Linked DNA regions of Homo sapiens. The protein of the gene in region 2 interacts with the protein of the main gene of each other region in a pairwise test. Each region holds a gene or a part of one and is shown on either strand. Other genes may lie near its edges. The genes, in order: PTK6, KIAA1217 and HSBP1.

Region 1 (7,849 bases), on a different chromosome or scaffold from region 2:
GGCCACCCCAACTCCGACGCCTCCCTGCGTCCCCAGCCCTGCTGGCCACACCTGCGCAGAGTTTCTGGGTCCCCACAGTTGCTGTTGGTGCTTCCTCAGTACCACCCCTGCCTCCCCTCCCTCAGAACGGCTCCCTCCTGCCCTGCACGCTCTGGCCAAGCTCTCTGGCCCCTCCTGCCCCCGTGCCAGGCAGCCAGTGGCCTCCGCCTGGATGGCAGCTGCCTAAAATCCCAGCCATGCTGAGATCCTCAGGGGCAGGGATGGGGTTTCTCTGCGCCCCGCACACCCCAGGCTCAGGTCTCATGCTGGGCGAGGTTCCCATGGGTGCTGAGGACCTCCCACGAGTGCCTCGGGCAGGGCTGGCTGGAGAAGCCCCTGCCCTCCCAGGGAGGGGCCCTGCCCCACGACTACCCTAGCAGCCAGTGACCCAGGCCCCAGGGAGGAGCGGGCCAGGTGGGCGGAGGGGATGGGAGCTCCCTGGAGAGGAGCCCATGTCCCCCGTCTCAGCCAGAGCGAGCCGGGTTCACCACGTGGCTGGGAGGGCTTAGAGCCAGGAGCCCCCGCAGGCAAGCACAGGCTCGGAGGCCGGGGCCGCACCCGACAGGACGTAGTCGGCACTCGGCTTCTCGCTGACCCTGATCAGGAAGGCGCCCGTGGCGTTGCCCTCGGCCTGCAGCCGACGCACAGCTTCCGAGCGGGAGATGCAGCCAAAGAACCACCTGCAGGGGAGGAGTCTGAGAACACGCGGACCTGGGCCCACCCCACGTGGACCCCACGCTGGCCCCAGCCTGCCCGCCTGGAACCCCAGCCGCCCTTGCCTGCCACCTCAAGCTCCCAGCCCTGACCACAGCTGCTCTCAGGAGCTGTCGCTGACCCAGACGCCCTGAATGTCCCGAAAGGCCAGGACAGGCCCCTGAGGACCCGGCGGGGGCAGGGGCAGGCGCTACCACACCCTGCCCTGAGTGGCCCGAGTCTAGGGGTCAGAGCCTAGGGTGGAGCTGGGGAGGGCAGCTGAGCAGGATGGCTGCCCAGAGCTGCCTGCACACACCCATGTGTGACGCACGCTCACACACACACAGTCACAAACCCCCACACATGCGCACAGTTCACCCGCACACCTGAACACACACGCGCATGTGTGCTCACTTGCCCACACGCTCACACGCACGCACACACAGCCACTCGCGCGCACTAACTCCCGGCTGCGGGGTGTGGGCCAGCCCTGGACTGTGGACTTCCAGGTGGAGCTTGCAGAAGCTCCAGGTGACCTGCGCCCTTTGTGTGTCTGACTCCCTCAGGTCACTGGAACACAAACCCCACACAGAAGACCACGGCCCAGCATGGAGCCCCTGGGGTCCACCCCCTCCACTTCCGCACACCTGGAAGCACTGCCCCACCTGCCCCTCCAACCACCTGGCCTCCCGCCCCCCCCCTCACCTGGCCTCCCGCCCCCTCCTCACCTGGCCTCCCGCCCCCTCCTCACCTGGCCTCCCGCCCCCCCCCTCACCTGGCCTCCCGCCCCCTCCTCACCTGGCCTCCCGCCCCCTCCTCACCTGGCCTCCCGCCCCCCCCTCACCTGGCCTCCCACCCCGTCCTCACCTGGCCTCCCGCACCCCCCTCACCTGGCCTCCCGCCCCCCCCTCACCTGGCCTCCCGCCCCCTCCTCACCTGGCCTCCCGCCCCCTCCTCTCCTGGCCTCCCGCCCCCTCCTCTCCTGGCCTCCCGTCCCCTCCTCTCCTGGTCTCCCGCCCCCCCCACCTGGCCTCCCGCCCCCCCTCACCTGGCCTCCAGCCCCCCCCACCTAGCCTCCCGCTCCCCCCCCCACCTGGCCTCCCACCCCCTCCTCACCTGGCCTCCTCCCCACTTCTCACCTGGGCGAGTTCTCAGGACTCAGGGTCTTTGCACCTGGGAGCTGACCAGCCTCCGGCCAGACCCCACCCCTGCACCCCTGCTCACTAACGAGGTCGTGGGTCTGCGCGTGACCCTGCTAACGAGGTCGTGGGTCTGCACGTAATAGAGGGGTCTCCACCATGGGCCCCTGCCCGACGGCCTCTTTACAGCCTCCCCTGCTTGTTGCTTGGGTCCCCCGGGAGCTAACCCTACACAGCCTGTGACTCACGCACACACACAGTGGGTGCCCAATCACTGATGAGAAACGCGGGATCTCAGGAGCGTGACCCTCCTCAGCCTGAGCTCCGGGCAGCTGTGGAAGCCAGGGCCAGGCCACACCAGCTGCTGTCTGGTTCCCCGCAGGGCACAGCAGGCAGGAAGTTTGCCCGGCAGCCGGCCCGCTCCCCTAACTAGGTCGTGTGTCTGGTTCCGGCACTTTGGAAACTGGGCAAGCTTCAAGCTTCGTTTCCCCCAAAGGCCCTGGAACGCTCCGACAGACCTTGTCACTGGCCACCGGGCCCCAGAAGTCCACCCTGGACCCTCTGTCCTCCCTGGGTCCCGGCAATGCAGCGTCCACCCCCGAGCTGTGACAAGGATGAGCCCAAGGCAGGGGCCGTGCCCTCTGACCCCCGTGCTCCAACTCCCGCAGGGACAGTCCTGGGCACTCCTGGGCGCCAGCGCATGGGGCCTGCAGGGAGGATCAAGCGGGATGCCCAGCCTGGACTTTGGGGTGCAGGAAGATGGAACCGGGGTCCCCACCTTCTTGGGCCTCCCTGAGCAGCCCAGAGCCCTGTCCCTCCCCTGTGCCTAGAGGGTGGCCTGTGCCAAAGCTCCCAGCAGCCTAGGACACGCACGGTTCCGACTCCACCGTCTCCCTCTCGGCCAGGTAGTTGTGGGGCACATAGCCCTGGGCCACGGCCCCACCCGCCTCGTCCAGCAGCGTGGCCCACCACCACTGCTCCTCCTTCCTGGCCACGTGGAAGACGTCCCCCGCGCGGAAGCTCAGCTCCTCGTCCGTCCGGGACTTGAAGTCCCAGAGGCCCACATACTTGGGGCCCAGGTGAGCCTGGTCCCGGGACACCATGGCGGGCGGGCGCAGCGGCAGGACCAGGCTGTGGCCCAGCTGGAGCACCCAGAGCTGGGCGTGGCAGGCGGGCCGTCCCACTTCCTCATGACAGGCCGGGAAGCAGCCACACCCAGCACCCACAGGCGCTCCAGAGCACCCCGGCTCCTCCTGAGGGCCCAGCCGGCCCCACAAGTCCTCAGGCCCACTGGGGCCCATCTGAGCACTTAGCGCCCGCACTATGGGAACCCACTGGGCAAGCACCGCCAGGGCCGGCCTGAGCGCAGGAGAGGGGGAGGAGGACCTCCCGGTTGGGGCTTCTTGGGGGTCCAACTTATGGACACTCAGGCACTCAGGGAAGCCAACGGCCCTCTGGGAACAAGCCTCGCAGCCTGAGGGCAGGAAGGTGAGGGCTGCAGGCGCTGCCTTCCCAACCCTCAGAGCTGCGGGGGCACAGGTGGGGGCCGCCTCTCTCCCCGCTTCCGGCAGCTTCCCCTCCACCCGTCGGTGCCCTCACCCAGCCCCAGACTCCACCCCTGAGCACAGGGCCCAATGTCAGGAGCTGCTGTGGGCAGGCGTCCTGAGAGCGGCCTCATGGGCAGGCCCGCCCTCGGGTAAGGGCCAAGCAGGGAAGAGGGAGTGGAATCAGGGCAGCGACAGCTGTGTGGGTCGGCCCGGAGGACTTCCCGGAAGAGGAGGGCCCGAGGGTTTTGGGGGATCCCCGGGGAGGCAGAGCCAGGGGCACCCACGGCTGAAGAAACGGGCACTGCCTTCCTCCACACGGACGCCAGGGGGCAGGCAAGGACCGTGAGTGCGGCCTGGAAGCGCCCATGGCGCTGGGGCCCAAGGCCACAGGTCCCTCCCAGGCAGCCCCTCCCGCCTCCAGCCTCTGCCTCCTCCTGTCCAGCCCGCAGGACCCCTGCCCCCTTCCAGCTGGCCTCCCTTCTCCCGACTCATGCCTGAGTGAGCCCTGCCGTGACCCCCACCTGCACCCGACGGCCGCCTGCCCCCCAGCCCCTGAGACTCGGGACACCCCCTCCCTGGAGGCCCCTCCCCGCCCCACCCTCCCACTGACCCTACTGTGTCCACCCGGGAGCTCCAACCCAGGGACCTGGACTGGCAGCCACAAGGGGGCAGGAAGGGGCGGGAAGGGAAATTCAAAGTCTGCAAGGGGTGGTAAGGAAAGTCCCTAAACTGCGTATTTCAACTTTTATTTTTATTGCAAAGAGAAATAATGGCACCTTCCACTCATTGTTTTGAGATTAAGAACAATAATCTGGATTATTTAACAGGCTCATAGATTTCTGGGCAGCCCAGCTCAGCGCTGACCAAGGTGGGGAGGGGCAGCGGGGTGCCGGCCTGGGCAGTGTCCCTCAGGCCCTCCCAGCTCTGTCTGGGGTCGGTTGGGGAGGATGCAGGGGGAGGGGTGGGGGGTGGGGAATGCGGAAGGAGGGTGCCGGGGCACCTGGCCGGGCAGCGTCCCTCAGAGCCCGGCCAGACTCTGGGCCCGTGAGTCTATGTCCAGGAAGCCTCGAGTATCCCTGAGTTCGGACGTGCAGGACTTTCAGTCTAAGCCACACCAGGAGGCAGGAACGTCCCCAGCCCCTCCCAGATACCCAGGAGCACCAAACCTGTTCAGCTGGTGGCTGGCGAGATGCCTAGGAGGGCACAGGTGCCACAGACACACCTGGTCCCCTTAATCCCAGTGGCGGCTGCAGAGAGCACAGAGGGCGAGGCCTTCTGTGCCAGAGGAGCCCCCAGGCTGCTGTGCTGGGGACCTGCCAGAACTGGAAGCTCAGCTCAAGGCCTCAGTGGGCCCAGGTACCAGAACCAGCCCCTCCCCTAGGTTCTCCCATGCAGATGGAGCTGGGCAGGTGGCCAGGGTCCCAAAGGCTCAGATAAAGCCTCTTGCCTCCACCATCTGCAGGGGTCCTGGTTCCTGCTGCTTCCCTCCGCTTGGCCTTGTTCCTCCGATGCACGGGCCCCAGGAAGCCCCCGCGCTGCCTCCGTTCTCGGAGCCTCCGAGTGGCCTCTTCCTTCCCCGGGGCCACCTGTCTCTGCACACGGGAGTCTCATCTCTTAGCTCCCTCCTGAGCCAGGCTTTGGCCGGGGCCTGTGGACGGCAGCCATCAGCACTTCGGCTCAGCAGGTACAGAGCTGACCCCAACTCTAGGGGACAAGGACTCAGTCAGGCCTGAACTTGTCTCCAAACTTTCTGTCCCCGAAAGCCTTCTGGGCACAGCTGCCAACCTGGGCTCCCAGGAGGGTGGGGGGCAGGGTCTCCGGGGGCCACAAACAGACCCCACCGGCCCCCTTGCTTCTTGACGTGTTTCACGAAGACCTGAGCAGAAGCTTCCCTGAGCCAGACGTGGGGAGACGAGGGCGGACCCTGCACATCCCTGCCCCCTCCTGCCTTGGTGACCCCCGAGGACTCACACCCAGAGGCTTCCTGAGCCACTTGCTGCCCAGCATACCATGGCATCTACCTCCGAGCCCCCAACCGACCCTGCCTGACCCTGCACAGGCAGAAGACTCCAAATCCCCCACGGCCCACCCTGAGGCCCCTGGAAATAGCCTCCAAGGGCAGCTCCCAGGTCACCAAGCCTCCCGGCCCACCCTTCCTGTGCCACCTGGAACCCACCCAGGGAGATGGAATCGGCAGCTCCTGCCAATGCCCTTGGGGCTCACGCTCTCTGGGCACCATGATGTCCTGGGCTGGGGGTCCGGGCGGCATGGGGGCCGCTCCAACCTGCATTTTCTAGCCACGTGGACCCGTACGCTCCAGCTCCTGGGTCTGGGTTTGGGGGGCTGAGCCTGTGTGTGATGTGCGCCTGTGTGCGTGTCTGAGTGGGTCAGTCCCGGCTTACTGAGTGCTGTGTGCGTGAGTGGGTTTGTGCACAGGCCGCCAGTGTGTCTGTGAGGGGCAGGTGACGGTGCCACCCCGTGCCTACATACCACACATCCAGTGGGGTCAACACCACGGTCTGCCTGGGAGTCAGCACTGGTCATTTCCACAAACCCAAGCTGGGACTAGGGAGAGAACTGGGCCTTTGGCTCTTCACCCTGGGAGGGAGTCCAGGGGACCCAGGCAGGAGACACACAGGGCTCAGGGTTCCTCACCCAGAGCCTCCGAGGCTTCTACCCACCCTCCTGTGCCGTTGTCTCTCTTGAGAGGCCAGGGACACGTGTCACACTGCACGGGGAACGTCAGCCCCAGCCCTCCGTCTGCACGAGTCACACTGCACGGGGAACGTCAGCCCCAGCCCTTCGTCTGCACGAGTCACACTGCATGGGGGACGTCAGCCCCAGCCCTCCGTCTGCACGAGTCACACTGCACGGGGGACGTCAGCCCCAGCCCTCCGTCTGCACGTCTGCCTGGTGCACGAACATGTGTGCACGCCAGGGCCTGAGGCCCACAGCCAGAGGCTCCTCGGTCCGGCAGACCGGCATCCCTTCGAGTTGGCGCTCTGCAGGGAGGAGGGGCTGGCCTGGCTGGAGCCCAGAGCGTTGGGTCACGTGAGGACTCAGGGGTGGCATCTGTGGATGGCGTGCAGCTTCTCCCGCAGCGTGGCGAAGGAGGGCCGTTCCTCGGGGCTGCTCCTCCAGCACTCCAGCATGAGCACGTAGACCTCCGCCGGGCAGGCAGCCGGGCGCGGCAGCCGGTACCCTCGCATGATCTGCTGCAGCGTCTCGTGGTTGGTCATCCCTGGGAGGCGCGGGGCAAGAGCTGCCTCGATTCTGCCTGGGGGTCCCTATGGAGGAGGCCTCCTGTAGCCCCCCATGTCATCTGCCTGCCCTTGGCCAGACCCTCCAACCCCTTGCCGACAGCGTCCAGGCCCGGGGCCAGTGACTCCTGGGCAGAGCCTGCATCCTCCCTCTGGCTGCCTGGGGACCCACCTTCATAGGGACACTGGCCATAGGTGAAAACCTCGTGCAGCAGGACGCCGAAGGACCAGACGTCTGACTTCTGGGAGAAGACACGATAATTGGCCGCCTCAGGCGCTGTCCACTTGACCGGGATCTTGGAGCTGCTGCTCGGGGAGTAGATGTCGTCCTGGGGGCGAGGGAAGGCCCCTGGTAGGGCAGGTGGACCGGGGTCCCCTCACCCACCCCCTCTGGGTCAGGGGCCCAGAGCCTCCGCTGACCTTGAGCAGCCGGGCCAGGCCGAAGTCAGCCACCTTGCAGGCCAGGCCGTCGTCCACGAGCACGTTCCGGGCGGCCAAGTCCCGGTGCACAACGCGCTGCTCCTCCAGGTAGCTCATGCCCTCAGCCACCTGGCAGGCAAAGCCCAGGAGTGGCGGCAGACGCAGGGCCCGGCCCTCGGGGGCTGCAGGAGACAGCGCGGGGTCTTTTAGGGCACGGGGCCAACGGCCGGTGAGGCCAGCGTCCACCCACGTCACCTTCCCCCATGCCTCAGCCTCCTCATCTCTAAGACGTGGCGAGGATGGCATGGCCGGCTAAGGCCACGGGAAGCCCCAAGTGAGACAGGGCGAGGGTCCTGTACTCACCACAGTGACCCGGCAGCCGGCCCAGGCCCCCGACAAAGACCAGGGCAGAGAAGAGCCAGAGGCTGGGCTGGGTCTATGTCACATTAGACCAAGGCTGGTGACCCAGATGGGACCGCGCCCCCCACCGCCCCCGAACACCAGCTCCAGCCCCGGAGCCACAAGGCTCTGGCCTGGCCCAGACCTGACGCCAGCCCCCTGTTGGCTGGAGACCAGACAGGGATGGGATCTGCAGCCGGGGCCACCTGCTCCCGGTAGAGAGGCCCGGTTCACCTCGGAAACCCCGCAGGTTCAGCTCTGCGCCAGGAGGGAAGGGGCGGTCGCAGGCGCGTCAGGGCCACGTGGCAGCAGGGAGGGGACTCACTGCCCAGGAAGGCCTGCAGGTTCCCCT
Region 2 (7,838 bases):
GCAATTGCTTTTGTCTTGTCTTGTTTGTCTTTTCTTTTTTCCTCTCCTCTCCTCCCCTCCTCTCTCTTCTTTTTTTTTCTTTTTTCTTTTTCCTTCCTTCTCTTTCTCTCTGTCTTTCTCTCTCTCTTTCTTTCAGAATCTTACACTGTTACCCAGGCTAGAGTGCAGTGGTGTAATCATGGCTAACTGCAGTCTCAACCTCCTGGCTGAAGTGATCCTCCTGCCTCAGCCTCCCAAGTAGCTGGGACTACAGGGCACTATGCCTAGCTAAATTTTTTTTTCTAGAGATGGGGTCTCACTATGCTGCCCAGGCTACAGGAAATGCTTTGGGCATTACCTTCAATATACACCTAGAATCTGCTGGCTTATCACCGCCTGCTAATCACCGCCTGGTCCAAGCTAGCCCTGGTTCTTGCCTCCTTGACTGCAGAAGCTTCCTAAAGGCCTCCCTGCCCTTCCCTCAACCCTACTTGGATTGTGCTCAATACAGCACCCAGTATTACCCCATTTAAAAAGACAAATCCCTTTGTAACTCACCTGGGCAACATAGCAAGACCCCTTCTCTAAAATAAAATAAAATACAATACAATACAATACAATACAATACAATACAATACAATACAATACAATACAATACAACCATGCATGGTGGCATGTCCCAGTAGTCCCAGCTATTTGGAAGCTAAGGCCAGAGGATTGCTTGAGCCCAAGAGTTCAAGGCTGCAGTGAGCTATGATCACACCACTGCACTCCAGTCTGGGTGACAAATGAGACCCTCTCTAAAAAAAAAAAAAAAAAAAAAAAAAAAAAGTAGTCCCACCTGCCAGGAGATTCCCACCTCTTTCAAAATAAAAGCTCTAGTCCTTACAATGGTTTCATGGGCCCTAGGTGATCTGGCCTGGGATTACCTCTCAATCTCTTTTCCTCCCATCCTTCTCCCATGTTCTTGCTGTTCTTTGAAAACATTACATCCCTGCTGTTACCTCTCCTGTCTTTGTTCAAATATCACTTCAGCGAAGCTCTTTCTAATAATCCTATTTACAGTTTCACTCCTTATTCCTTTTCCTGCTTTATTTTTCTCTGTAACCTTATTTCCATCAAATAGGGTTGCCAGATAAGATACAGGACTGCTCAGTTAAATGTGCACTTTACATAAATAATGGAGAAGTATTTTTAACATAAGTATATCCCAAATATGGCATGGGATATACTTATACTAAAAAAAAAAAAATTCACCGTTTACCTGAAATTCAAATTTAGCTGGGCCTCCTGTATTTTTATTTGCTAAATCCAGCAGCCGTGCCATCTAACATGCTATATATTTTATTTATTTGTTCATTGTCTGTCTCTACCAGCTCCCCACCCCCTGAAACTTGGTCCTTACACTGGAAGTTAAATGAAGGCAAGTATTTTTAGTCTGCTTTGTTCACCACTGGATGTCTGGCAGCTAAAACAGTGACGTCTACATAACAGATGCTCAATATTCACTGAATGAATGAATTAGTGAGCAAAGGAGCACACTGTCTCAGGCTGACCATCCTAGCCTCTGAAGCCTCTGAATTGCCCTGATTGTTGGAAAGTCATTTCTTAAATGGATCCCTTTCTAATGGCCCCTCTAGAATCTGAGTCATCTCTTTCAGGACAGGCCCAGAGGTTGAATTCCTGAAGTAGGATCCTGTCCTAGAAAATGGGGGTGGGGGGTTGCGGGGGTCAGGGGGACGAGGTAGCCTTATCTTCCACTGGATGCCACTGACCCCGGTAGCCTGAAGGAGAGTGCTGTGCTTTGGCAGCACGAAGGCAGACACTTCGACAGATGACTGTTCAGACTCAGGGATTCTCCAGCCATTACAAAACTTCAAGTTTTCTGCATTTCACTGGGGGATTTCTATCTCTTGTCATTGTAAGTTCTCCTGACTGGCTTAGCTTTGCATTTTCAGCGTGGATGAGTCATGTGTTACTTCCCTTTCACATTTTCATAAAACACACACCTTTTCCCCTGTGCATAATCCCTACTCCCACGCACAGCACTGCACTCCCGCACGTCTTTTTGTTGTGTACTGGCCCCTGCATGAACCTGAGGGAGGGTGGGGCGGGTGGTCCAGGGCTGTGTGGTTTATGAACATGCTGCCTATAGGATCCCACAGAATCAGCTCTTGGCATCACAGGCATCAGATGCCAGAGAGCAGGGACCTCCTCTGGCCACCCAACCCGGTGCGAAATTTCTTTGGAACAACATAAGCTTCTGGAAATTCCCTACGGAAAAGACAAGTCTATTATAAACACAATTAAAGGGAAACTGCCTGGAGAAAATTTACCAAAATTGTCCAACAACTCCCAAGTTTTGAATTAAAACATAAAAGAAGATCCAGAGTTCTATCTATCACCCAGATGCTCAAGCCCTCCCCTGCTGCTCGGATCTGTAAAATAAAACATGCCTGGTTTCTGTGATTTAACTCTAAAATTCTGCACAAACTTTGCAGCCAGCATGCATCTGCCACATGGAATCCCCCAACCAATGAATGGAAGCTGCGGTCCTAGAGACAGTTTCACAAAAACAGCTCCTTTCTCCCGTGGCTGGAGCCCCGGGGGGAAATGATTAAAAGCTGCTTAGTGATTTATTTGTCATTGCTTAGAGATACAGCTCATGCTGATGGCTCACTGCACTACAAATGTGACATCACCCCACCACCTCTTTTGCTGCTTAAGAAAATCGTGCCAGAGATAAAGTCAAGCCTAAGAAATCACAGTTCTCTATGCTCTACTCAGTTTGGAAAATGTACCATCCCAAGAAATTGCCTTTTTTTTTTTTTTCCTTTGCCGGGTCCCAGAGCTGCAGTTTATAAAAAGCAGCAAGCGGCAAGGGGCACGCGTCCCTGTAACTCCATCTTTGAATGGGTCTGTTACTTACCCTGCATCTGTCTTCTGTCTGCTGAGTAAGGAAGGCACGGCTCACATTTCTGGCTTTCATTTTCTTCCATTGTCTCTGCCTGCCGCAAAAGCTCCTCGCTCTCTGGAAACTTCAGAGCGCAGTTCTAAAAGCTCCCAGAAAGCGCCTGGGAGGGGGCCCGGGGCTGGGGAGGAGGGGACGGTGCGAAACCCCACCCCAAACTATTTTCCACTCCGGTGCAAAGTCTCCCTCGCCCGAGAAAACTGCATTCCAGCGCGGGGCCTCTTGGATCTCCCCTGCCCCTGGCCCTCCGTCCCTAGGTCTGTCCGTCCGTCCGTCCGTCCGTCCTCAGGCGCGCTCTCCGGGGACTGGGGGCTGGGCTCTGCCAGGGCAGGGCGATGCGGGGGTGTGGGGGGGAGGCCTCAACAGGTGACGGCCTCTCCTACCCACAACTGGGCCTGCCTGGTTCCACTGCTGCAAACCACCGAGGCTCTGCAGCCGAGGAAGGAAAACATTTCACACATGATTAAGGCCGAGAGCCTTCGCTGGGAGCCAGTGCCCTCATCTCTTTAATCTCAGAGGCAGAGTGAGCCTCCCAAATCGGGTGATCCACATATTAAAAAACAGCAACCTGTTGAACCTCCCAAATTTCAGTGAACTCCCTTAAAAAAAAATCCCAAACAATTTGAAAGAAAGAGTATATGCTGAGTGTTGTAAGTAAGCACTTTCCGGCACTAACTTTTTAGGGCCCGATTAACATCTATGAAGAGGTATAGCGTCATTTGCACACAGTCGATTTCAATCACTTAATCTGGACTTTTTAAAAAAAAGTTTCTACGTACTTGCTCACTTTCTCAGACTCCTCCCTCCCCCAACACACTTACACACACACACACACACACACACACACCCAGCCCTTAATCACAAATCTGAAAGGTAAACTAGTAAAGTCAATCTTCTGAAGCTCTCCCAGTTAACGACTCCAAAAATCTGAAAGACAGTGAAAATGCATTTCTTTGGACAGGCAGAGTTACAACCAACATACTTCTCCTTTTAAACCACCTACAAATATTTATTTTGTTCTTTACCCAGTCCTTGAAAAACTGGCAGAGTTCCCAGAGAGTGAAAATAGGAGGCATGATGTCCGAAAAAAAAAAAAAAAAGAGGATGGGAAAATAATTTAGGCAACATTAGCTCTGCGATGTCAGATATCTCAGAGTAACACAGTAGCTAGGAGGAAGAGCGCGATTTTGTAACCTGTAGTAGCCCCGTCACAGGAGGGGTAAAAAAGGACAATGGTTAGTCTGGTGACCATACTTTGCCCCAGTTTACAGGGCATTCCAGCAAGGTTTGAGATTGATTTAGATCAAGAATGTGTGCTGAACAATGGCCAGCCTATGTTCCAGATTGTGACCTCGAGTGACCTGTGTGTTTTGGCAGTGGGGGTGACGTATTTTGGCCATTTAAGACATAAGGATGTGGAAGCACCTAACAGACAAAGGATGTAGGCCAAAAGGAAAGGAGACATACCAGGAAGTGAGTTACACTCACGTCAGGAGGGGAAGAAGAGAGCCCCTCAATTCTTAACGGGATTTTTCTTGAAATCCAAGAAGACGCGGTGAATCTTTCAAAAAATTAAAGCAGTGCCTCGGCAGCCTGAATAGAGGCAGTGGGATTTGCAGGGCAGATAACTTAAGGTCTCTATGACTTTGCAACAGAATTACCTGGCAATCTTGCTTTAAGGAGGAACTAATCTTACACAGTTTCTGTCCTGGTGGCCCCTGGGCAAAGGCCAGATGAATCTAGTTTTAACCTTATTATTTCCTTAGGTGCAAAATGTTCATGAAGGAGGGCCCTGCTGTGTTCAGCCTTTCAGGTCCAGATCATCCTGATTCTTGTATACTGTTGTGTATTTGTCTTTAAAGTATTAATGCTAGGAAGAGTGGGGAGGAGGGTGGGAGAAAAGTATGTGTGTGTGTGTGTGTGTGTGTGTGTGTGTGTGAGAGAGAGAGAGAGAAACACTGTAGCAGGAGATGCAGCAGCCCAAATCAGATGTCCCGCAGCCTTTGGTTGTGACCCCAATCCCCTTGCTCTGGTGTCCAGAGAGCCCGTGCTTAACAGCTCCTACCTGTCATTTGGTGTAGCACAAAGGCAAAAACCCCAGGATGAAGGAGGCAGCAGAGGGCTGCCACAGCCGTTGGCAGCCACAAACAGCACCCTGCCCCAGGGCCCTCCTGGCTAGCTCAACCCAGGCAGAAAAGATCCATTGGCAGATGCTGATTAAGATTTCCTGGGGGCTGTTTGGAAGGTGTCAGAGCAGTCTTTCAGGCCTCTGTTGACCCCTAGATGGACAAAAATAGGGAAATGTCTCCCACCAGGTCTGAACTACCATTTTCCAGGCAGCCCAAGGAACCCCCTTGGTCAGCCGACCTTGCTTTCCAGCTGCTAGGACCCTCCCCTCCCCCATACGGGCCAAGCCCACTGCCCTCTCTGCTGATATTCCAGGAAACAAAACTCTGTGATATGCACAACAGAAAAAGGCATTGGGGGAAGAGAATTAACATGAATCATTAAGGATCATGAAACCTAGACATGTATTTATGGTAAAATAATGTTCTTTTGAATGATCAAACTTTCTGACCATTCTATAGGGAAAAGCTTCTATTGGATTACTTACTGGCCTTTTGTTCCTCCTTAAGAAGAGGAACTGAAAACAATTTGAGAAGGCACTCTATTTGCCCTTGCACCGACTATTCCATATCTTTCTCCAAAGCACAGAGACCTTCCTAACAATTTAGCACTGATTGTCAGTGTCTCTGGAAAACAGTAGCTGTATTCTGCAATCTATATAAACCTGGTAACTCCGATCTTCATGAAAATACTCTTATTGTCACTGCTGTTACTGTGGAGATGTTCTTCTTTCTGGAAGAAACACTATTTGAACTAGAAGTAGGTGTATTTCTTTCTGGTTTAATTTAATTTCTGGGCTTAAAAATTGCTATTACATTGCAATCTGCCTACTGCTATACTTTGAAATTTGCTGTGAAAGGCATAAGGAAAGCGGGAAGAACTTGAAATCTGATTTTCCTCCAGTCATATAAAGAACTAGAATAATAATAATACCAGGAGGCTAAGTTTTCAACTCCGTTTCTGTTAACAGGGAAAGGTGCAAGACTATTTCTTGGTTAGTGGTTCCATATGTTGCAATTCATGACTCAAAATGAGCTACCACATAAAACAAATGTCATTTAAAAGGAAAGACAAGTGACGAGATAAAAGAGTGCTGTAAAGACAAATGGTGATTTTGCAGTCATAGCTAACCCGTTACAGAACTGGACCATTATTGGTGTTGATAACGCAACGTAAATGGCATTCACCATAAAGAGAATTAATCACAAAAATCGTAAACAATTGCATATGATTTCTCAGCAGGCCAATTATAGGGTTGTGGAAAGCATGTCAACTTCCTTCATGTAAATTTTTCCTTTTTTCCTTCTTTCCTTTTTTTTTTTGAGACAGCATCTTGCTCTGTCACCCAGGCTGGAGTGCAGTGGCATGATCTCGGCTCACTGCAACCTCCACCTTCTGGGTTCAGGTGATTCTCCTGCCTCAGCCTCCCAAGTAGCTGGGACTACAGGCACATGCCACCACGCCCAGCTAACTTTTTGTATTTTTAGTAGAGATGGGGTTTCACCGTGTTAGTCAGAATGGTCTCGATCTCCTGACTTTGTGATCTGCCTGCCTCGGGCTCCCAAAGTGCTGGGACTACAAGCATGAGCCACCGCGCCCGGCATTTTTTCCTTTTTTTTGAGACGGAGTTTTGCTCTTGTCGCCCAGGCTGGAGTGCAATGGCGCGATCTCGGCTCACTGCAACCTCTGCCTCGAGGGTTCAAGCAATTGTCCCGCTTCAGCATCCTGAGTAGCTGGGATTACAGGCATGTGCCACCACGCCTGGCTTTTTTTTTTTTTTTTTTTTTTTTTTGTATTTTTAGTAGAGACGGGGTTTCACCACATTGGCCAGGCTGGTCTCGAACTCCTGACCGCAGGTAATTCGCCCACCTTGGCTTCCCAAAGTAATCACGCTGGGATTACAGGCGTGAGCCACTGTGCCTGGCCTATGTAAGTTTTTCAACAGAGAAATCATTGCAAGAACCAAGAGTAAGTGGAATTGCCCTGATACATATTTAATATTTTTTCACTTTAAATCCTATTAAGAACCAGATAGTTGAAAATGACTTGACATCAGGACACAAAAGAAATAATTAATGCTTGCTGAAGTCCTTAAAATGTACTTTTCAAAGGCATTCATAACTGTGAGAGTCAATTAAAACAAAGTGAAAAACAAAGAAGTCAACAAAAGTGTTTCAACCAGAGGCCTCGTGTTTGATGTGTTCCACATTAACTGTTTCTAAAAGACAGGCTGCTATGGTATGAGGCCCTGTAAGTCAGAAATAAAGGATTTTTAACAACTGGGATAACATTTGCTTAAATGGATGATCTGGCGCATGTGAAATGTGGGCTCTCCAATCCTAGTTTTGACAGCAATGTGTCAGGTGGTTAGGGTGACCTTATACTTAGTATAAACCAGCATTTGTGAGAGGGAAAGTAGACACTATTAATAATTACAACTGGACAATAAGACACCACGACTGTCCCTGGCAAACCAGCACAGATGGCCACCTATGTGTGATCCCAAGATAAGCCCTCTGGGCGCCTTAGGTTTCCAAATGTGAGGGGAACATAATGATACTGTTTGAGTTTCCCAACAAAGACCCTATAAAAGAATCTGAAACAATAATTAAAAAATAATTAATCTTAAACAATAATTAGAGCAAAGGTGTGAGCCTCACACGGACCGTATTACAAGCCCCACTAACAAACAATTTCGCAGATTCCATAGTATAATACATTTCTATATGACTCATAGATCAAAACAGAATTTTCCCTTCTG
Region 3 (7,416 bases), on a different chromosome or scaffold from region 2:
TGAATGAAAAACCAGTATCACTTGGAATACAATAAAGCAGCAGTAAAAATAAATACAATGAAAACAAACAAAAAAGCATAATTACCTTTTAGCTGGATACTATGTCTACTTAAGGTCTGCGTATGAAACTCTCTGTATTAAAATGAGAGATAGATAAGGATTAGAGAGGTCTCAAAGACACAGTAATATCCACCTGAGACCCTCTGCTTGTCAGGATCACTCAAAGAGAAATGAAAATGGAATGAATGAATGTCAACCGTGTGAGTCAGGCTTTTGTATCACCTGTCCACACAGCACCTAGAACCATTTTAGTAGAAGCAAAACAAGCAAAGTTGCATGAACAGGAGGTAAGGAAGTGGATCAAGTAACTAAGACAATAAGTCCTTCCTTTCTAGAAGCTCCCCTATGAGCAGTAGCTCAACAAGGGCACACAGTCAGTGGAGGTTCACCCTGGTTGGACTGGTTTCCATTTTCTATTTGTTTTTTGTGCAGCGGGGGTGGGGCGAGGGGTTGGTCACTTTTATGTGCTGAGAAGGAGGAATCATTGGAAAAAAGAAAATGAATGCAGGAAGCAAGTTCCTGGAGTTGAGGAAAGAGAATGGGATCAGGGCCCAGGTCTCTCTGCCTTAGACAAACGCAGAGCCCTGTGCGCGAGGAAGAACACTGCTTCCTGAGACAGAAAGGATCGTTAGCTAGTGACACGGGGGTTAATGTAGGAACTTAGGAATGCACGCAGGACGGGAGTTAAGGGGTTTTGATGGACAGTCTCCATTTTCTCCACAAAATAGAATATAAGGTCATCCTCTGAGGGTGAAGGGGATAAAGTCCTGGATTTGGGGGGACCAGAAAGGTTTGGAATGGCTACTGAAGGGCCAGGGCTAGGGCAGCCCAGGTCACTAGAAGGAAGGGGCACCCTTCACTGACCCTGCTGTGGCACCGCCCATCAGGTGAAGGTTGCTCAGCAGCAGCATGAGGCAACCTGGGAGGAAAGCAAACCAGGGGAGCAGCTGCTGGGCCCCAGGGCTGGGCCTACAGAGCTGACGCAGGTGCAACTAGGCAAAGAACATTCCAGTTCCTCCAAGGCCCCGCTAGGATCATTCCATCGCTGCTCACACAAGGCAAACGCACAAAGCACCTCATTGCATGTGGTCACATGGACAGACCAACACCTTCCATAGTGTATTTTATTATTACTGTTTTTTGAGACAGAGTCACAATCTGTTGCCCAGGATGGAGTGCAGGGGATAGATCTCGGCTCACTGCAACCTCTGCCTCCCCAGGTCAAGCGATTCTCCTGGCTCAGCCTCCTGAATAGTTGGGATTACAGGTGCACGCCACCTAGCCCAGCTAATTTTTGTATTTTTAGTAGAGATGGGGTTTCGCCACACTGGCGAGGCTGGTCTTGAACTCCTGGTCTCAAGTGATCTGCCTGCCTCAGCCTCCCAAAGTGCTGGGATTACAGGCATGAGCCACCATGCCCAGCCACCTATCATAGTACAGATCCAAGAAAGGAGGCATGTCAAAAGAATGGCCCAGAGAACCAAAAAGCAATTATAAAAGTACCATAATAAGCGCACGTAAAACAAAACTGTCTTGAATGGAAAAAGGGAGTTACAACATGCAATTAATCTAGGAAGAGCTTTAAAAAAAAAATGCCAAGAGGAGGTAAGACAACTATGACACTTAAATAAAGGTTAAAAATGAGAGTTGTTCAAAACCGAAGTTTAAAGGTTAATTACTGGTGCCTTACACGTAATACATTAGTTTTGTTAATGGGACAATATTCAGTTAGGTTCGGTGTGTCAGCCCCACAAGGTGAGTATGTCAGCCATGAGTATAAATTAGTGAAGCTTCCGTGAAAAGCAGCCCTTTAACAGACCTTGGTCTCCACACAGAGAAAGCATACTGCCTGTCTGTTTAAGTGCAAAAAATAAAGGAACAAATAATGCCTCCACTAAAAGAGTATCAAGTTTGTTTGTTGTTCATGTAAAGCAAATTTCCAATTGGAATTTGAAAAAAAAAAACCACAAGTGTCTTACCAGAAAAGGAAAGAAAAACTCCAGATTCTCGTGCTAATTCATGTTCCTGAGTTGCCCACAGCCATAAGACAGGTTTGCTCAGAGATCCAGGGTGCAGGCACCCAGCTTTCTTTGCTGAGTGTGGGAGTCCCAGGGATTGGGGTCTAAAGTCAGAAGCCTGAGGGCTTTCTTCACCTTGGCTATTCACTAGTTTTTAAGGAGTTCTGAAGTTTTATGAAAAGTCTTTTACGATTAGCTGGGCATGGTGGTGCTCACCTGTAATCCCAGCTACTCAGGAGGCTGAGGCAGGAGAATCGCTTGAACCGGGGAGGCGGAGGTTGCAGTGAGTCGACATGGTGCCACTGCACTCCAGCCTAGGCAACACAGCAAGACTCCATCTCAAAAAAAAAAAAAAAAAAAAAAAAGTCTTTTAAGAAAACTGAGATACTGGCATCTAGTAGGTAGAAGTCAGAGATGCTGCCCAACGTCCTACAATATACAGGGTGCCCCCTCCACCACCAACAATAAAGAACGACTTGACTCAAATGCCAGTATTGCAGCTCTTGAGAAACTCTGCTCTAAGCTCAAAAAACTCAGAGAATTCTAGAATGGTGAGAAAAAAGGAGAAGATGCAGAGTCAGGAAGTCCTGCGTCTCTTACTTCCTTAATTTGATGACCTTGTTCCAGTTTCTTAACGCCTCTGCATCTGTTTTCTCAAAAATGTAAAATTATGATAATTATATCACAGGGTCTTCTGAGGATTAACTTAAAACACTGAGATATTTTTATTTCAAGTAGTCGGGTAAAGCACTAGCCAAATACCAGTTGACAACAGCCAATTACAAAAAAGTTGTGTATACTTACACAGAAAGGAAGATCTCTCTATAGGAAAGGATGAGGTGTGAAGGGTGAGGGGCAAAGGTGTGAGTGAGGGGGAAGGGGTGGTAAAGGGAGTTGAAGTCTCATGCCTCAAGGCCAACTGGATTCCGGGTTTGTTAGAGACACTGGTGGGTCTGGCAGAGGCGTTTGAACAAGAGCAACTCCATCTCGAATAGGAGCTGGGTAAACTGAGGCTGAGAACTACTGGGCTGCATTCCCAGACAGTTAAAGGATTCTAAGTCACAGGATGGGATAGGAGGTCAGCACAAGGTACAGGTCATAAAGACCTTGCTGATAAAACAGCTTGCGGTAAAGAAGCCGGCCAAAACCCACCAAAACCAAGATGGCAATAAGAGTGAACCCTGCTTGTCTTCATTGCTACACTCCCATTACCGCTATGACAGTTTACAAATGCCATGGCAACGTCAAGAAGTTACGCTATATAGTCTAAAAAGGGGAGGCATGAATCACCCACCCCTGGTTTAGCATATAATCAAGAAATAACTATAAAAATGAGCAACCAGCAGCCCTCAGGGCTCTGTCTATGGAGTAACCATTCTTTTATTCCTTCATTTTCTTAAACTTGCTTTCACTTTACAGACTCGCCCTGAATTCTTTCTTGCATGAGATCCAAGAACCCCCTCTCTTGGGGTCTGGATCAGGACCCTTTCCCGTAACAGCTCTAACACCTTACAGCCTCTCCCTAGCTAAAGTCAAACTGGAGCTGACCCCTCACATAGCACAGTCCTTAAATGAGATGTGTGAAAGTTTCCAGAACATGCCAGGCCCGCAGTCAAGGACTCTCCTATCCCCTTGCCATGAGACCCAATCCTAAAGACCACCTGTGGGGTTGGAACTTGAGGTTCCAAATCAGCAGTGCCCACCTCCTTCAACACCCAAACCCACAGTCTAACCCTGATGCCGGAAGCCTTCCCCACTCAACAGCAGGCATTGCGTGGAGTGAAAGAAGCCAGGCATGATGGACAGCTTCCTGTCTGAATCCCCTCATATGAACCTGACGGGCACAATGAACCTACTGGGCTAAACTCCAGACGCTGGCCACCTTCATAGGGTGGAGATGACAGAACAGGACAGGAGCCATGGGGCTCCCGGGGCGGGTAGGGGTGGGTCATGTTCCTTGGCTTGGGGGCAGTTACAAGGGTACAGTGGGGCTTGTTGAAGGGCAAAAGTTCTGTAAGTTCGTCCCGACAGGCCAAAGAAACCCCAGAGCCGTCTTTCGACTGACTACAGCCTGGAAGAGAGGCCAAGACCACTCCCTGCCTCTATTGCTCCATTTCTGAGTTGGTCTCACTTTCCACCCCACTGACGGCGCGCTGCGTGAGGGGCGGGGCATAGAGGGAGGGGAGGGGCTATGCGAAAGAAGGCGGGGAGAGTGGGGTGGGGCCGCTCCTTGGAACGGAAGCGCGCGGCCTCGAGGCCCTTCCGGTGCGGGAGAAACTACTACTCCCATAATGCCCCGCGGTCCCGCGAGCTGCCAGTCTCGTCGCGAGAAGCAGCGGCCCGGGGCGACTGAGCGGACAAACGGAAGTGTAGGTTACGGTCTGAGACATCACCGCCAAGCTGGGCATCGGGGAGATGGCCGAGACTGACCCCAAGACCGTGCAGGACCTCACCTCGGTGGTAAGGGACGGCTGTGAGGGCCGGAGGCCGCGGCCTTCCCGGGCGGCGCCGGGCCAAGCCCTGCTGGACAGAGGCGCGCCCACCGCGGCCGCGCGTGGCGTCTGCCGAGGCCCCGTTTCTGGAAGCGTCTCTGGCCGAGGCTCCCGGCCACCTTGACCCCCGGGGCGCTCGGTGCGGGCCAGTCTCCCCGCGGGCGCCCCCAAGCCCGACCCCTTCCAGTAGCCCCATTCATCTGTCGCGAACGCCCTCCGGGTCCCTCCCGCCTACCTCTGACACCCTCCCCGCCCTTCAACTCCTCACACACCCCCGGGTGCCCCAGCCCGGCAGAAACAACCTAAAGACCCTGAGCTTTGAGTCGCAGCGGCCTCCCCAGCCCAGCAGTCTAATTGGACAGGTTGGAAAACGGAAGCCCAGAGAAGGAAGATCTTGCTGAAGGCCGCACAGCTGTCCAGAGGCAGAAATGGGGCTGGAACCCCGGGACCAGGGCTTGCGTCCTGATCCCAGGAAGTTGTCTCAGGATCGATGTGGACCGTGTTTGTTTGTTTCGGTTTTTCTTAGGTGCAGACACTCCTGCAGCAGATGCAAGATAAATTTCAGACCATGTCTGACCAGATCATTGGGAGAAATATCCTTTTTATCTGCAGTCGGCCTCCTGTGGGCCTTTGGAGCCTATTTGCCGGGCAGTGGTGGGGATAAATGAGTAGTTTTCAGGCTAGCTTCAGCCATTCACTTGTAGAATTTGAGCTTGGATTGTACTGTGTTTCTGAGAAGGACTGCGCCGAGAGCTAGGGGCAAAGCTGAGTTAGACTCCTGGCTCAAGGAGCATACGTCTACCAATCCTAATAGCTGGTGTGGTGGACCATGCACTGTGAACTAAGCGCTTTTGTGTGTGTCTTTTGATGCTCAGCATGACCTTATGAGTGGGTTGTAGTGTTATCATCTTTAGCAAATGAATAAATTGAGGTTTAGGGGTTCCATCACTAGTAAGGGTCAGGGCTGGAATCCGATGCGGGGTAGCCATGCCCCACAGTCCTGTACTCTTACCCACCAGCGTGTAACAGTGTCGAAAGAAAATTGGAAGACCAGTTTCCCTAAAGTCGTTGTGTTTAAGGCTGTAGTCTGCAGGGACGGGAGGAAAAAGGCTCAATGAGATGTTGGCACGCGTTGTCTTTAACTTCAGCACTTGATGATATGAGTAGTCGCATTGATGATCTGGAAAAGAATATCGCGGACCTCATGACACAGGCTGGGGTGGAAGAACTGGAAAGTGAAAACAAGATACCTGCCACGCAAAAGAGTTGAAGGTGAGGAAGGGGGCAATTTTTTTTTTCTTTTCTTTTCTTTTTTTTTTTTTTTTTTTTTTTGACACGGAGTTTTGCTCTTGTTGCCCAGGCTGGAGTGCAATGGCACGATCTCGGCTCCCTGCAACCTTTGCCCTCCTGGGTTCAAACGATTGTCCTGCCTCAGCCTCCCGAGTAGCTGGGATTACAGGCTTGTGCCACCACACCCAGCCAATTTTGTATTTTTAGTAGAGACGGGGTTTCTCCATGTTGGTCATGCTGGTCTCGAATTCTGACCTTGAGTGATTTGCCCGCCTCAGCCTCTCAAAGTGCTGGGATTACAGGTGTGAGCCGCCGTGCCCGGTCTTTTTTTTTATTTTGTCTTAAAAGAATAGAGAGAACCTGTAAGTATAATTTGTATGTAGTCAGACATTCTGTAGATCAGTTCCCAGCCATGATCCCAGCAAGCATCACTGTATTGTTTACCTGCTGTGGACTTGATGTTTTGAAATTTTTCATGCCAAACTCATTCTTTACACCGAATTTATTTTCCCAGTTTTTATTAATTAGACTTCTGTCACTATTAGTGAAGACCACTGGCTAACATTAGATAACCACTGAGTTTTTATCATTCCAGCTAATAATTAAGGTGTCTTTTTGTTGGCCTATAAAGCCTGTCACTGGAAGATTTTCCATTGCTTTTTTTTTTTTTTATGGAAATAACTGATAAGTCACCCACATTACCACCTTCTTAAATGGCTTAAATTCTGGAGACTTTCTTGGTAACTTGACATAGGTGAACTAGATTGTGGCCACATTAAGCTTTTACCCTGGAGTTCATTTAAATTTCCTCTGAATAGTTTCAGATGTCAGAGGAAAGCCTAGTAATTCAAAGTACCTACACAGCAAGATAGGTAAATGTACAGAATCACTCAGCAGAGTGCATGGTGATCCTTTTCCTCTGTATGTGTGAAAAATAAGTTTTAGACTCACTTTTCTCTTGTTTCATTTATAACATTTTAATTCTCTATAAAAATGAATGTTGCTGAGGGAGGCGGAGGTTGCAGTCGAGGTCACGCCACTGCACTCCAGCCTGGGCGACAGAGTGAGACTCTGTCTCAAAAAAAAAAAAAAAAAAAAAAAGGTACTGGTGCGTGGTGACTCATGCCTGTAATCCCAGCACTTTGGGAGGCAAAGGCAGGCAGAGGGCAGATCAGTTGATGTGAGGAGCTCGAGACCAACCTGGCCAACATGGTGAAACCCTGTCTGTACAAAAATTAGCTGGGTGTGGTGGTGCACGCCTGTAATCCCAGCTACTTGGCAGACTGAGACAGGAGGCAGAGTTTGCAGTGAGTCGTGATGATGCCACTGCACTCCAGCCTGGGAGACAGAGCAAGACTCTGTCTCAAAAAAATAAAATAAAATGGTTCCTGAGTATTTTTAGATTCGTAGAGTACTAAGCAGAATGTACAGTAAAACATGCCTAATTTCCTATTTTCTGGGCTTGCTGTGGACCACATTTTAAGTCACTGTGAAATACAGATTTGGGATGTTGAAGACAGACTCTAAAATTTGCTTTTATCTTCACAGTAGGTGGG

The links.
Region 1: the proteins of KIAA1217 (region 2) and PTK6 interact in binary tests that used the Homo sapiens proteins (3 or more experiments, as listed by UniProt).
Region 3: the proteins of KIAA1217 (region 2) and HSBP1 interact in binary tests that used the Homo sapiens proteins (3 or more experiments, as listed by UniProt).

The regions. Positions count from the first base shown.
Region 1 is NC_000020.11:63,534,341-63,542,189, forward strand, and holds the start of PTK6 (protein-tyrosine kinase 6), read right to left. Parts: upstream 3,037-7,849; 5' UTR 2,975-3,036; coding exon 2,745-2,974; intron 720-2,744; coding exon 598-719; intron 1-597. Other genes in the region: tyrosine-protein kinase Srms, read right to left, coding at 6,478-6,659, 6,851-7,007, 7,099-7,280, 7,823-7,849. UniProt on the Homo sapiens protein: Non-receptor tyrosine-protein kinase implicated in the regulation of a variety of signaling pathways that control the differentiation and maintenance of normal epithelia, as well as tumor growth.
Region 2 is NC_000010.11:24,204,334-24,212,171, reverse strand, and holds the start of KIAA1217 (sickle tail protein homolog), read right to left. Parts: upstream 3,035-7,838; 5' UTR 2,979-3,034; coding exon 2,909-2,978; intron 1-2,908. UniProt on the Homo sapiens protein: Required for normal development of intervertebral disks.
Region 3 is NC_000016.10:83,803,584-83,810,999, forward strand, and holds the start of HSBP1 (heat shock factor-binding protein 1), read left to right. Parts: upstream 1-4,394; 5' UTR 4,395-4,493; coding exon 4,494-4,538; intron 4,539-5,096; coding exon 5,097-5,163; intron 5,164-5,721; coding exon 5,722-5,840; 3' UTR 5,841-5,842; intron 5,843-7,416. UniProt on the Homo sapiens protein: Negative regulator of the heat shock response. Negatively affects HSF1 DNA-binding activity. May have a role in the suppression of the activation of the stress response during the aging process.